Homo sapiens: one gene and its partners. The protein of the gene in region 2 interacts with the protein of the main gene of each other region in a pairwise test. Each region holds a gene or a part of one and is shown on either strand. Other genes may lie near its edges. The genes, in order: TNNI1, PRKAB2 and CFAP68.

Region 1 (3,651 bases), about 54 Mb from region 2:
TTGTGGAAGACACTTTTTCCACGGAGAGGTGGTGGGGTGGTTTCAGGATGAAACTGTTCCACCTCAGACCATCAGGCATGAGTTTGATTCTCATAAGGAGCGTGCAACCTAGATCCCTCACATGCACAGTTCACAATAGGGTTCACACTCCTGTGAGAATCTAATGCCGCCGCTGATCTGACAGGAGGCAGAGCTCAGGCGGGAATGCTCATTTGCCCACTGCTCACCTGCTGCAGTGTGGCCCAGTTCCTAACAGGCCACGGACAGGTACTGGTCCACAGCCCAAGAGTTGGAGATCCCTGCTCTAGGACAGTCAGACCCACCCATCCCTTTGCAAATAACCACTGCACATTTGCTGATAAACGGATGGTTAAGTGGACAGATAAAGCCTATTAGCCGTTGCTAACACTATAGCCTTGAATAAAAGGGGCGGCTCCACCAGACTGAGACTTGTCTGATTTGGAAGCCCTATTTGGAGTGCAGGGCTGCTTCCTCTTGTTCCTGCAGCCTCATCCCTGCTTCTAACTTATTCCTCCCCAGTGAGCCTTCAAAGCAGCTCACAGCCTTGGTCCAGCAGGGTGATAAACTTACAGGTCCTAGACCCCTGGAGGAATTCCCAGGGTGTGATCTCTAGGGGGAGTTCTTAGGAGCTTGGTGACCCCACATATAATTCCTGGTGGGCAGAAGTGGGAAGGAGAGAAGTGGCTTGTGCTCCCTCCCTGCCCCCTCCTCACTGCCTGGACAAATGCCCCAAAGGAGCCCTGTCCTTCTCTGCTCTGCCCCTCCCCACTGGAGCAGGGTCTGGGTGGAGCTAATCCTCCCACACCCCATGCTAAGGGAGCACAGAGCACCGGAGTGGAAGCCAGAGACCAGCACTGGTCCCAGGACCACCACTGTGCAACCTAGGACAAGTCTTTGGCCTCTCTGATCCTGAGTGTTCTCCTCTGCAAGGTGCAGATAATAGCCCCTACTTCATCCACAGGCCTATAAGGAGGATCAAAGGCTATAACGAACATGAAAGCACTTCACAAAGGTAAGACGTTATTAACAGGCATATGATTATTTGTGTGGGTGGATAAAGAGAGCAGCTTCTGTTAGGCTGATGAGCCCACATGGCAGGTAGGGAGGAAGTTTGTACTTTTCATGTGTGATTATCCACTCTACCCATCTCCAGCCCTATGGGGCTAGGGCAGACAAACCAAAGTTTCCTGCTTAAGTGGCCCCTTCCTAGGCCCTGTGGAAGGAGGGGACCTCCCATGGCTGCTGCATCCGTGCCCATGCCCCTGCCCAACCCATTATGGCCATGCCCCTTCCCTTCCTTAGACTCACCTCCCTGGTGTTGTGGAGGCATTTGGCCTCAATGTCGTATCGCTCCTCATCCACCACCTCCACCTTGGCGTGCAGCTCCCGGCACAGGTCCTGGGGGCCGCAGATGGATCATGCAGGTGTGAAGAAGAGGGGAACAGAGACATCAGTTTCCAGCCCTTGACCCTCTCCCCAGCCCCTTTGCAAGACCTGGGATCCAGAGAGGAGCTGACAGTCTCCTCCACTCTGAGGCTCATGACGGGCAATAGCTCAAAGGGTATGCCCTCTGTTCTCCTGTCTGAATGTCATGATTTCTTAAAAAATAGTATTCCTTCGCTTGAACCCAGGAGGCGGAGGTTGCAGTGAGCTGAGATCACACCACTGCACTCCAGCCTGGTGACAGAGCGAGACTCCGTCTCAAAAAAACAAACAAACAAACAAAAAACTAGTATCCTTGGCTGGGCACGGTGGCTCATCCCTGTAATCCCAGCACTTTGGGAGGCCAAGGTGGGGGATCACCTGAGGTCAGGAGTTCAAGACCAGCCTGACCAATGTGGTGAAACCCTGTCTCTACTAAAAATACAAAAATTAGCCAGGCATGGTGGTGTGCACCTGTAGTCCTAGCTACTTAGTAGATTGAGACAGGAGAATCACTTGAATCTGGGACACAGAGGTTGCAGTGAGCCAAGATCACGCCACTGCACTCCAGCCTGGGCAACAGAATGAGACTCTGCCTCAAAAAAAAAAAAGTATTCTTTCATCATGGCTCATTGCAGCCTCAACCTCCTGGGCTCAAGTGACCCTCCCATCTCATTTTTTTAAACTTTGTATAAAGAAAAGGTCTCACACTATGTTGCCCAGGCTGGTCTCGAACTCCTGGGTTCAAGTAATCCTCCTGCCTCCGCCTTTCAAAATGCTGGGATTACAGGCATGAGCCACTGTGCCCAGCAAAATAAAATAGTTTTCTTATGATAAAAGTAATGCGTTAATTTTAGACATTTTGAAAACTATGTATTAAACAAAAATAATAAAAATTAAAATACCTAGTGATGCCACCACCCAGGGATACTTAGTAACATTTTGATATACTTCCTTCCAGTCTCTTTTCTCTATAATCACTGGCATTTAACCAATTTACCAGTGTTCTGAAAACATTGAAGACCAAATTCTAGGAAAGGGTAGACAAGTCCTTGGAAAAGTGGGGCTTCTCCCAACCCCGGCCGCCTCCCCACTCCATGCCACCACACTGGCTGATTGTGAAGCTGGGCCGCCCAGCCCAGGCAAGTCACGCCTCCCCTCTGATGCTCAGTTCAGTGCCCGTAAAATGGAATCTAATGTTCCCACCTCACAGGTGGTTGTGAAGATTAAATGAGACCATGTAAGGGAGGAGTGCCCTGTAAATTATGGAGCCTTGAGCTGGTGTTAGTTCAGGCTCCTGCCGCCTGGTCCTTGGAGCCACCCACACAGCACCTCCAGCCCCACCCTGCCCCGCCCCACCTGCCAGGCTAACCTGCAGGGCACTGAGGGACAGGCCACGGGTCTGCAGCGTGGGGATGCGCTCTGCCAGGTAGCGCACCTTCTCAGCCTCGCGCTCCTCGTGCTCCTGCTCCCAGCATTCCTTGGCCTTGGCCAGCATCAGGCTCTGGACAGGACACACCTGCTGAGCTGGGGGCCTCACATCTCCCACCCGGCATCAGGGAATGAGGGGAGGGCAGCCACAGCCTGGGCCAACTCTGAGACCACTGTCCAGTGTAGAAGTGTATGCAGCAGCCATGGACAGGCCACCATGAGGGTACACCCAGTGGCTGCACACAATGTTCCTCAAGCCCTGGAACTTGTTTTCCCCGGACAGTCTTCCTCTTATCCACTTACTGTCTGTTTTGACCCACAAAACTCCAAAGAGAGAAACACATATGAAAATAAAGGAAGTCCCTCTGCCTGCATGAGTAGCTTCCCACTCTGAAGCTGGTCACCACCTACTCTAGGGACCACAGGCGGATGCCAGAATCCATACTCGAGGATCCCACCTACTGATCACCTGAGCCTGGCACTGGCTCCAGCAATGCTGGACTCCTGCCCCTCATCATCCTCACTCTGGCCTCCTTCCTTTCTCCTTGCCATAATCCTCCACATCCCTTCAGAGTCTGCTCTGCTGCCCCTCTGCCTCCCACTGGGCATCCCCCCACAGCCAGCCCCCAGCCTCACCTTCAGCAAGAGTTTGCGGGAGGCAGTGATCTTGGGTTTTCTCTGTGGGCAAGAAGAGAGAGAGACAGGTGGTGAGGCAGAGGCTGCAGAACTGGAATTCTGGTCTAGGACAAGACAAGTGCCAGCCAGCGTTCTCTATCT
Region 2 (3,651 bases):
GGGGTCAGGTATGGGATCTGAAGGAGGCTATTAAAGGAAGAATGTGAAATGAGAGGAATAAGGGTTCTTGTGGGGCATCTGGTATCATATAAACAACACAGATTGTGCCACATACTCTGGGAATATAGAGAACCCATGCAAGAAAAACTGCCCTTGCAATGAGGCAGCTGTTAAGTAGGGCAGCGGTCTAGCACAAGCCCATTCCTTGGAGAGCCAAGGTAGCAGTGATAGAATCTCCACCCAACAAGGATCCTAAGAGTTTGCTGTTCTTTCATTTTAGGAAAAATCTTCCTATATAGTTATTCCTGCAGCGCCCCCAAACAGGTCTTGGTGAAAACCCACAGGCAGAAACAATACTTCTAGCTGGGGCTAGGAGGCTTCCATTTACCTTCTTCTCATATGTATATTTTTTTTTCTTAAAATAAATTCCGTGAACTCATAAAGCTCTCATCTGCAATCAAATGCAAAAGCAGAGCATCCTACTCAGAGGCTCTGAAACACACATATCAGCCTCAAAGCAAATCAGCCTTCCAGTCTCAGGTAAGACTGGTTCAGTCCAGAAATGCAAGGGAGATGCTTCTCCTGAATCCTTAGAGGCAAGAAGGGATCCCTTCAAATGGGCTTGTATAGCAGAGTAGTAACATACTTCTTCTTGTAGCGATGGGTTGCGCTAAGGACCATCACACTGTCCTGCAAGGAAAAGAAACATACGCAGCTAATTCATTACTTCAGACAGTAGGTAGCTCTTCCCAGTCATCAGTCCTTCACAGTCACTCACTTTTAACAGAGATAGTTTGATATAAGAGCAGGAGGTCAAATAAGTTTTAGTTCCAATTCTGACTCCTATCATCATTCTACTTGTGGCCTTGGGTAATCTACTTAGTGTGTCCAAGTCTTTTTATCTCATCATTACAAAAGATAACACCTACCATTAAGGTTGCTCTGATGATTACATGAGAATATCTGACACAGTTTCTGACACATAAAAGGGCTGAAGAAATAATAGTCTCCTACCTTGCTCCCTTCCCTACTTTAAATTCTAATGTTGGGCCTAAAACTAGCAAGAAAAACAAAAAAGAACAAAATATTCTGGCATCCATTTCTAGAAGAAAGTCTTAAAGACAATGAGGAAAAAAAGAAACAATCCTTCTGAAAAACTATTTCCAAGTCCCAAAGCAGGTCTAATTTTCATTTAAAACCAGGGATGACTTCCAAAAGATCTCTCTGATTTAGAGGGAACCTAGGAATCCCTCTCTATCCTTGAACAAAGTAGATGTCAAAATCCTCTTCAGAAAGACACCCAATCCAATGGATCAATTCCAAACTGCCTAAACAATATGAGAGAATCAGGAATGGGTCAGAACCAAGCTAAGCCACAATAATCAAACACCTTCACCTGAGTCAGAACCAGTAAGAAGACAGCAAGAGGTACCATTTCCCAGGCTGTGTTGTAGACTACAGATGTACCACAGGAGGAGATGGCAAGCCTAGGCAAATTAAATGACATCCAAGGAGCAGTTACAGGAGGCAAAATCCATCAGATCCCAAAGAACCCAAGCAAATCCGATTAAGAACAAGTGTATCCTTCTACCTTCCCCCGTACTGTATTATCCACCATGAATGCTTCTCGGGTTAACACTCCAGAGTCATGCTGACACAAAGCCTAAATACGACAGAAGCAAGGCAGGTAAACAATTCACTTTTACACTTCCACAGGTTTTGTGGAAATGAGGAATACCTGAGAAAAACCTACTTGGAAAGACCTGGCATAATGATAATATAGGAAAGAATATGAAGTCAGCATAGGAGGACTGGACCTCAGCAGTCCTGTCTCTGGTACTTACTGGCAATTTGACCTTCTCTGAGCCTTAGTTTCTTTATCTATAAAACAGGAGTTAAAAATACTTACAACGTTATTATAAAAATTAAATTCAATAATATATTTTTAAGTGTTATATTGTACCACATAGTTTGTTAGCTATATCAGTGATTTCCCGAATCCAGCTATATATCCAAGTAAAAGCAGCTTAAAAAAATTATAGGGCCCATCCTAGATGCACTTATTCAGAATCTCTAGGAATGGAGCTGCTGAATCTGTATTTTTACAATCTTCTCCAGGAGACTCTAATGATAATCAGCCTGGTTTGATAACTGCAGAGCTATATAACTTTATTCCAATAGCCAAACCACAAAGACATAACAAGACAGAACAGAATGGCTATTTCCAACCCAGACTCTAAAGCAGCAGAAAAACCAAGGAGGACTCTAGAGTTGACGGGACAGGGCAAATCTGGTCACATCTCTCCTTTAACTAGTGTATAGGAGAGATGCAAGCACCTGAGTATATATGAATGAGGCACCTGAAAGTAGCTCAATTCCACCTTCAAAAAATGAAAGCCTTAATATCACATTCAAGCATTCTTTGAACTGGAAGCTAAACCTGCTTTTTCTGCAGAAGAAATCCTATGCTATGAACACAAACTTAAGTAAACAGTTAGTGTAAAGATTCTAGTCACCCAAAAAATAACTGGGCAGCAAAAAAGTCCTATCAGAGGGCAATTCAGCCAGCCAGAACACAGAGACTGAGATTTTAAAACAAACAACCTAGTAGTTAAAAAAAAGAGAGTTCTTCTATAATTTGATCATTACTGCCAGCTTCAGCTTCAATGAAATAGCAGAGAAAGTAACCACTGAGAACGTATGTTACCCTTGACCTCTCATTCCAGGGAGCTCTGTGAAGAGCCAGGGCCACCACTTACCTTAATGGACAATGCATAGAGATGGTTCAGCATAACATGGTTGGGCTCAGGGAGTAAGGCTGGGTCACACTAAGAGAAAGAGAAAAAAATTACTAAAAAAATTACTAAATGAAATTAATGCACAGACAAACCAAACAGCTTACTCTTCCTCAGAGCTCTTTGAGAAATTTAAACTAGAATGCGCTATCTCTTTTCAATAATGCACCCACTCTAGTATGTATCAATAATACAATCCTATTACAGAAAATTAGAAAAATTATCAGTCCAGGGCAGAAATCTCATGCCTCAGCATCTACTAATCTTCCTTAAGAGAGCTAAAACAAAAATCTTGCCCACAACACACAAGGAAGAGTTGTGTTACAAGGCAAAAACAATCATAGTAGGAATCAAGTAGATTGAATAGAGACATGAATTATATACAAAAAAGCTTTCATAGTTCTTTTGTACACCCCCAAATGATAACTACTCCTTTATGTTGTGCTCAAAAGAAGTCCATAGCTCTGATCCTGATTTTATTAGGATGAGGAGACAACTATGAATTTTTATATCAGTACCTGAAAAAGCTGTGACTCACCACTGGAAAAAGGAAATCTGTAATGTTATTGGTATGTGTATGACTTATAATCTCAACACACCTCTGTAGTAATCCTAACCTCTAGGATTACTGAACTTTGGTCCAAATGGTCCTAGACACCCCCAGATGCCCCAGTAATACTCAGGATACTCACAGAAATATTAGTGTCTTTGTTAAGAATAACTTGAAGTAGATGAGGAGGAAGGATGGGTGGGGATTTGAATCTTTCCTCAGATCGAAACGCATACATTTCTTGACCATAAGGCCCTGGGGGTGAGCTGGAAAGGTCTGAAAGATATTTATACAAATATGAGAAAG
Region 3 (3,751 bases), on a different chromosome or scaffold from region 2:
CCAAGTTTTTCCAGTATGGATGGCGATGCACCACTAATGAGAATACCTATTCAAACCGTACCCTGATGGGCAACTGGAACCAGGAAAGATATGACCTGAGGAATATCGTGCAGCCCAAACCCTTGCCTTCCCAGGTAATCTAACTTTGTCTTTTTTGTTTGTTTGTTTCCTTCTGTTGGCAAAAGAAATGTAGTGGCCATTTGAAATGCAGGGATGTAATAACTTCTGGTGCAGTGATCTCTCAGTTTTCAGTGAAGTGGTTGGGGCAGAGGAACAGTCCGCAGCTGAACCACCTATGCTACTTTACTGTCAAGTTGAATATTTTATTATCTGTAAGGTTTCAAAAGGAAGGGCAGTCCTCTTTTTCTCTTACTTCTGTTTGGACTTTATCTCTTAGTCTACAGAAATTTATAATGTCTTCTGACTTAGACTAGCTTTTCCCCTGGTCCTTGCCTATCTAGACTTGTCATTTATCTGAGTCTTGCACTTAAATCGCTCCTAAACAAACAAACGTACAAAACATGTGAAAGTTAGAAGGATATAGACTAACACCATAGAACTCAGTCCATCTAAAATATGACAGTCCGTGAGAATTCATGTCATATTGATCTTTATTTCCTGATGTTAGCTGTAGACTTCCAGATTCTTAATCTGTTAATTTTTCTTTCCAGTTTGGACACTACTTTGAAACAACATATGATACAAGCTACAACAACAAAATGCCACTTTCAACACATAGTACGTGGACTGTTTTTTCAAATTCTTACATTTTCAGAACCTAACTCAGTGACCGGCACATAGAAGGAACTCAAATAAAAGTAAACTGAATAGGTGAATAAGTGAGGCTGGGCGCAGTGGCTCACACCTGTAACCCCAGCACTTTGTGAGGCTGAGGCAGGCAGATCACTTGAGGTCAGGAGTTTGAGACCAGCCTGGCCAGCGTGGTGAAACCCCATCTCTACTAAAAAAAATACAAAAATTAGCTGGGCTTGGTGGCGCATGCCTGTAGTCCCAGCTACTCAGGAGGCTGAGGCAGGAGAATCACCTGAACCCGAGAGGTGGAGGTTTCAGTGAGCAGAAATCAAGCCACTGCACTCCTGCCTGGGTGACAGAGTGAGACTCTATCTCAAAAAAAAAAAAGAAAAAAAAGGTGAATAACTACATGAATGAGTAAACAGGATTTTTTCTTCAATTTTAACAGGACTTACTGTCTATTCCCTAGAAATAAGAGCAAGATCAGTTACTAAAACTCCTTAGTGTTGACTGTTTTCATTTGTCTTTCCTTCCTTTTTTTTTCTTCCCTCAGGATTTAAGCGAGAGCCTCACTGGTTCCCAGGACATCAACCTGAACTGGATCCTCCCCGATACAAATGCACAGAAAAGTCAACTTACATGAATAGCTATTCAAAGCCTTAAATTGGGCATCACTCAGGATGTGTATAAGATCTTAATATTGACTAGTTTCACATCCAGGTTTCTAAGAAATGATAAGATACTTCACTTTTCCAGAGTGAAATGTAGGAGGGAGCACATTCTAAGTACAGCTAAAAATTTAGCTCACTGTAACACAGTTTCACTCTCTGAATAAATAAAGCAAAAAACACAGTAAATATTCTTTATCCCTTTTTTTGTTGTTGTTTTAACCAAGATTTAAATGTCAAATTTAATACAGCAACTCAGTTCTACATTTGGGGTGTTGTAGAAGGGCCTTAAAAAGAATTATTTTAGGCCAGGCACGGTGGCTCATGCCTGTAATCCCAGCACTTTGGGAGGCCGAGGCAGGTGGATCACGTGAGGTCAGGAGTTCGAGACCAGCCTGACCAACATGGTGAAACACTGTCTCTACTAAAAACACAAAAATTAGCTGAGCATGGTGGCTCACGCCTGTAATCCCAGCTACTCAGGAGGCTGAGGCAGGGGAATCGCTTGAACCTGAGAAGTGGAGGTTGTGGTGAGCTGAGATCATGCCACTGCACTTTAGCCTGGGTGACAGAGCGAGACTCTGTCTCAAAAAAAAAAAAAAAAAAAGAATTATTTCTCTGAAGTCTACAACCACTGTGGTCTTCCCTTCCTTCTGTCGTAGCAAGACCTCAGAATCTAGCATAACTTAGGCTAGGTTTGGCTAGATGCTTTCTGGGTATAAGCCAGAGTCGTATAGTGCAACTTTGCTGTGACCTTAGTGAACATCCCCTCTTGAGGACTACAAAAACAAACGTAACTTTTTAAAATTATTATGGAGAATTTTACGTAAAACAAAAGTAGACAGGCTAGTCTAATGAACTCCCATGTATCATTACCCAGCATCAACTATTTATGACTAATCTTACCTACTTCTACTTTGTCTTATTGAATTAATTTTGGAGCAGATCTTAGAAATAGAATTTAATCTATAAAAATCTTGGTGGGCTGGGTGCGGTGGCTCATGCCTGTAATCCCAGCACTTTGGGAGGCTGAGGTGGGTGGATCACCTGAGGTCAGGAGTCCAAGACCAGCCTGGCCAATGTGGTGAAACTCCATCTCTTCTAAAAATACAAAAATTAGCTGGTCTTGGTGGCGGGCGCCTGTAATCCCAGCTACTTGGGAGGCTGAGGCAGGAGAATTGCTTGAACCCAGGAAGCAGAGGTTGCAGTGAGCTGAGACGGTGCCATTGCTCTCCAGCCTGGGCGACAAGAGCGAAACTCCGTCTCAAAAAAAAAAAAGAAAAGAAAAAGAAAAAAAAAATCTTGGTATACTGGCTGGGCACAGTGGCTCACACCTAATCCCAGCACTTTGGGAGGCTGAGGCAGGAGGATAGCTTGAGGCTGGGAGTTCAAAACCAGCCTGGGCAACATAGCAAGACCCCATCTCTACCAAAAAAAATTTTTTTAAAGATTTCAGTATATTTCTCAAAAAGATAAGGACTGTCAATTGTCTACTCCCCCCCAACAAAGGTCACTAAGGAAACCTGTTGACTAAACAAAGCTCATTAAACCTATTGTAGTGTAGCAAAGGAGACCATCAACTTGACACAGAGTCTTGGTAATGATTCAAAGGGAGGATGTTAGAGTAAGGTATTTATAAGGATTTGAGATAAGGGTCCAACTGGTTTAAAATGAGTCAAAATAGGGAACTAGTAGAGACTGAGAAAGGGTTGTGAATAGCTTAGGTTTGGTAAACTTAGGAAATCAACAGTCTTAATTTTAATATGGTTAAACTGATTAGTATTTCCTATTTTTTTATCTACTGTGTAAGAAGACACTATAATATATGGGCATTACTGAGAGATACTGCCCATATGTTGTCCTCGTAAGCAAGGAGATATTTTTTATCTCCCATATATTACCTCTCAAACCTTTGTTACTTTAGTTTCGAGATATAGATCCAGAATTTATGTTGTTACTCAGTAGTGAGGAAGTTTCTTTTTTTTTTCTAAATGGCTATCAAGTTGTCCCACCATTAGTTATTGAAAAGACCATAATTTTTTCACTCCTATTCAATGCCATTTTTATTGTAAATAAACTATGTACATGTAGGTCTGTTTCTGGGCTACTATGTTCTATTAGTTTAATTGTCATTCCTTGTATTATCTTAGTTATGATGCCTTAATTGCACCATCTTAATTATGATAATTTTATTACATTATTATTATTTTATATCTTAATACCTAATAGATCAAATGCTTTCGTCTTGTTTTCTTCAAGAATATTAGCTATGTTTGAACTTTTGCATTTCCATATAAAATTTAGAATCAGCTTGCTCCATAAAATGACAC

What was found.
Region 1: the proteins of PRKAB2 (region 2) and TNNI1 interact in binary tests that used the Homo sapiens proteins (3 or more experiments, as listed by UniProt).
Region 3: the proteins of PRKAB2 (region 2) and CFAP68 interact in binary tests that used the Homo sapiens proteins (3 or more experiments, as listed by UniProt).

The regions. Positions count from the first base shown.
Region 1 is NC_000001.11:201,411,703-201,415,353, forward strand, and holds part of TNNI1 (troponin I, slow skeletal muscle), read right to left. Parts: intron 3,553-3,651; coding exon 3,511-3,552; intron 2,948-3,510; coding exon 2,816-2,947; intron 1,420-2,815; coding exon 1,330-1,419; intron 1-1,329. UniProt on the Homo sapiens protein: Troponin I is the inhibitory subunit of troponin, the thin filament regulatory complex which confers calcium-sensitivity to striated muscle actomyosin ATPase activity.
Region 2 is NC_000001.11:147,158,953-147,162,603, forward strand, and holds part of PRKAB2 (5'-AMP-activated protein kinase subunit beta-2), read right to left. Parts: intron 3,622-3,651; coding exon 3,488-3,621; intron 2,829-3,487; coding exon 2,760-2,828; intron 1,882-2,759; coding exon of another isoform or gene 1,845-1,881; intron 691-1,844; coding exon 613-690; 3' UTR 1-612. UniProt on the Homo sapiens protein: Non-catalytic subunit of AMP-activated protein kinase (AMPK), an energy sensor protein kinase that plays a key role in regulating cellular energy metabolism.
Region 3 is NC_000011.10:111,882,465-111,886,215, forward strand, and holds the end of CFAP68 (cilia- and flagella-associated protein 68), read left to right. Parts: coding exon 1-134; intron 135-671; coding exon 672-738; intron 739-1,306; coding exon 1,307-1,416; 3' UTR 1,417-3,511; downstream 3,512-3,751. UniProt on the Homo sapiens protein: Microtubule inner protein (MIP) part of the dynein-decorated doublet microtubules (DMTs) in cilia axoneme, which is required for motile cilia beating.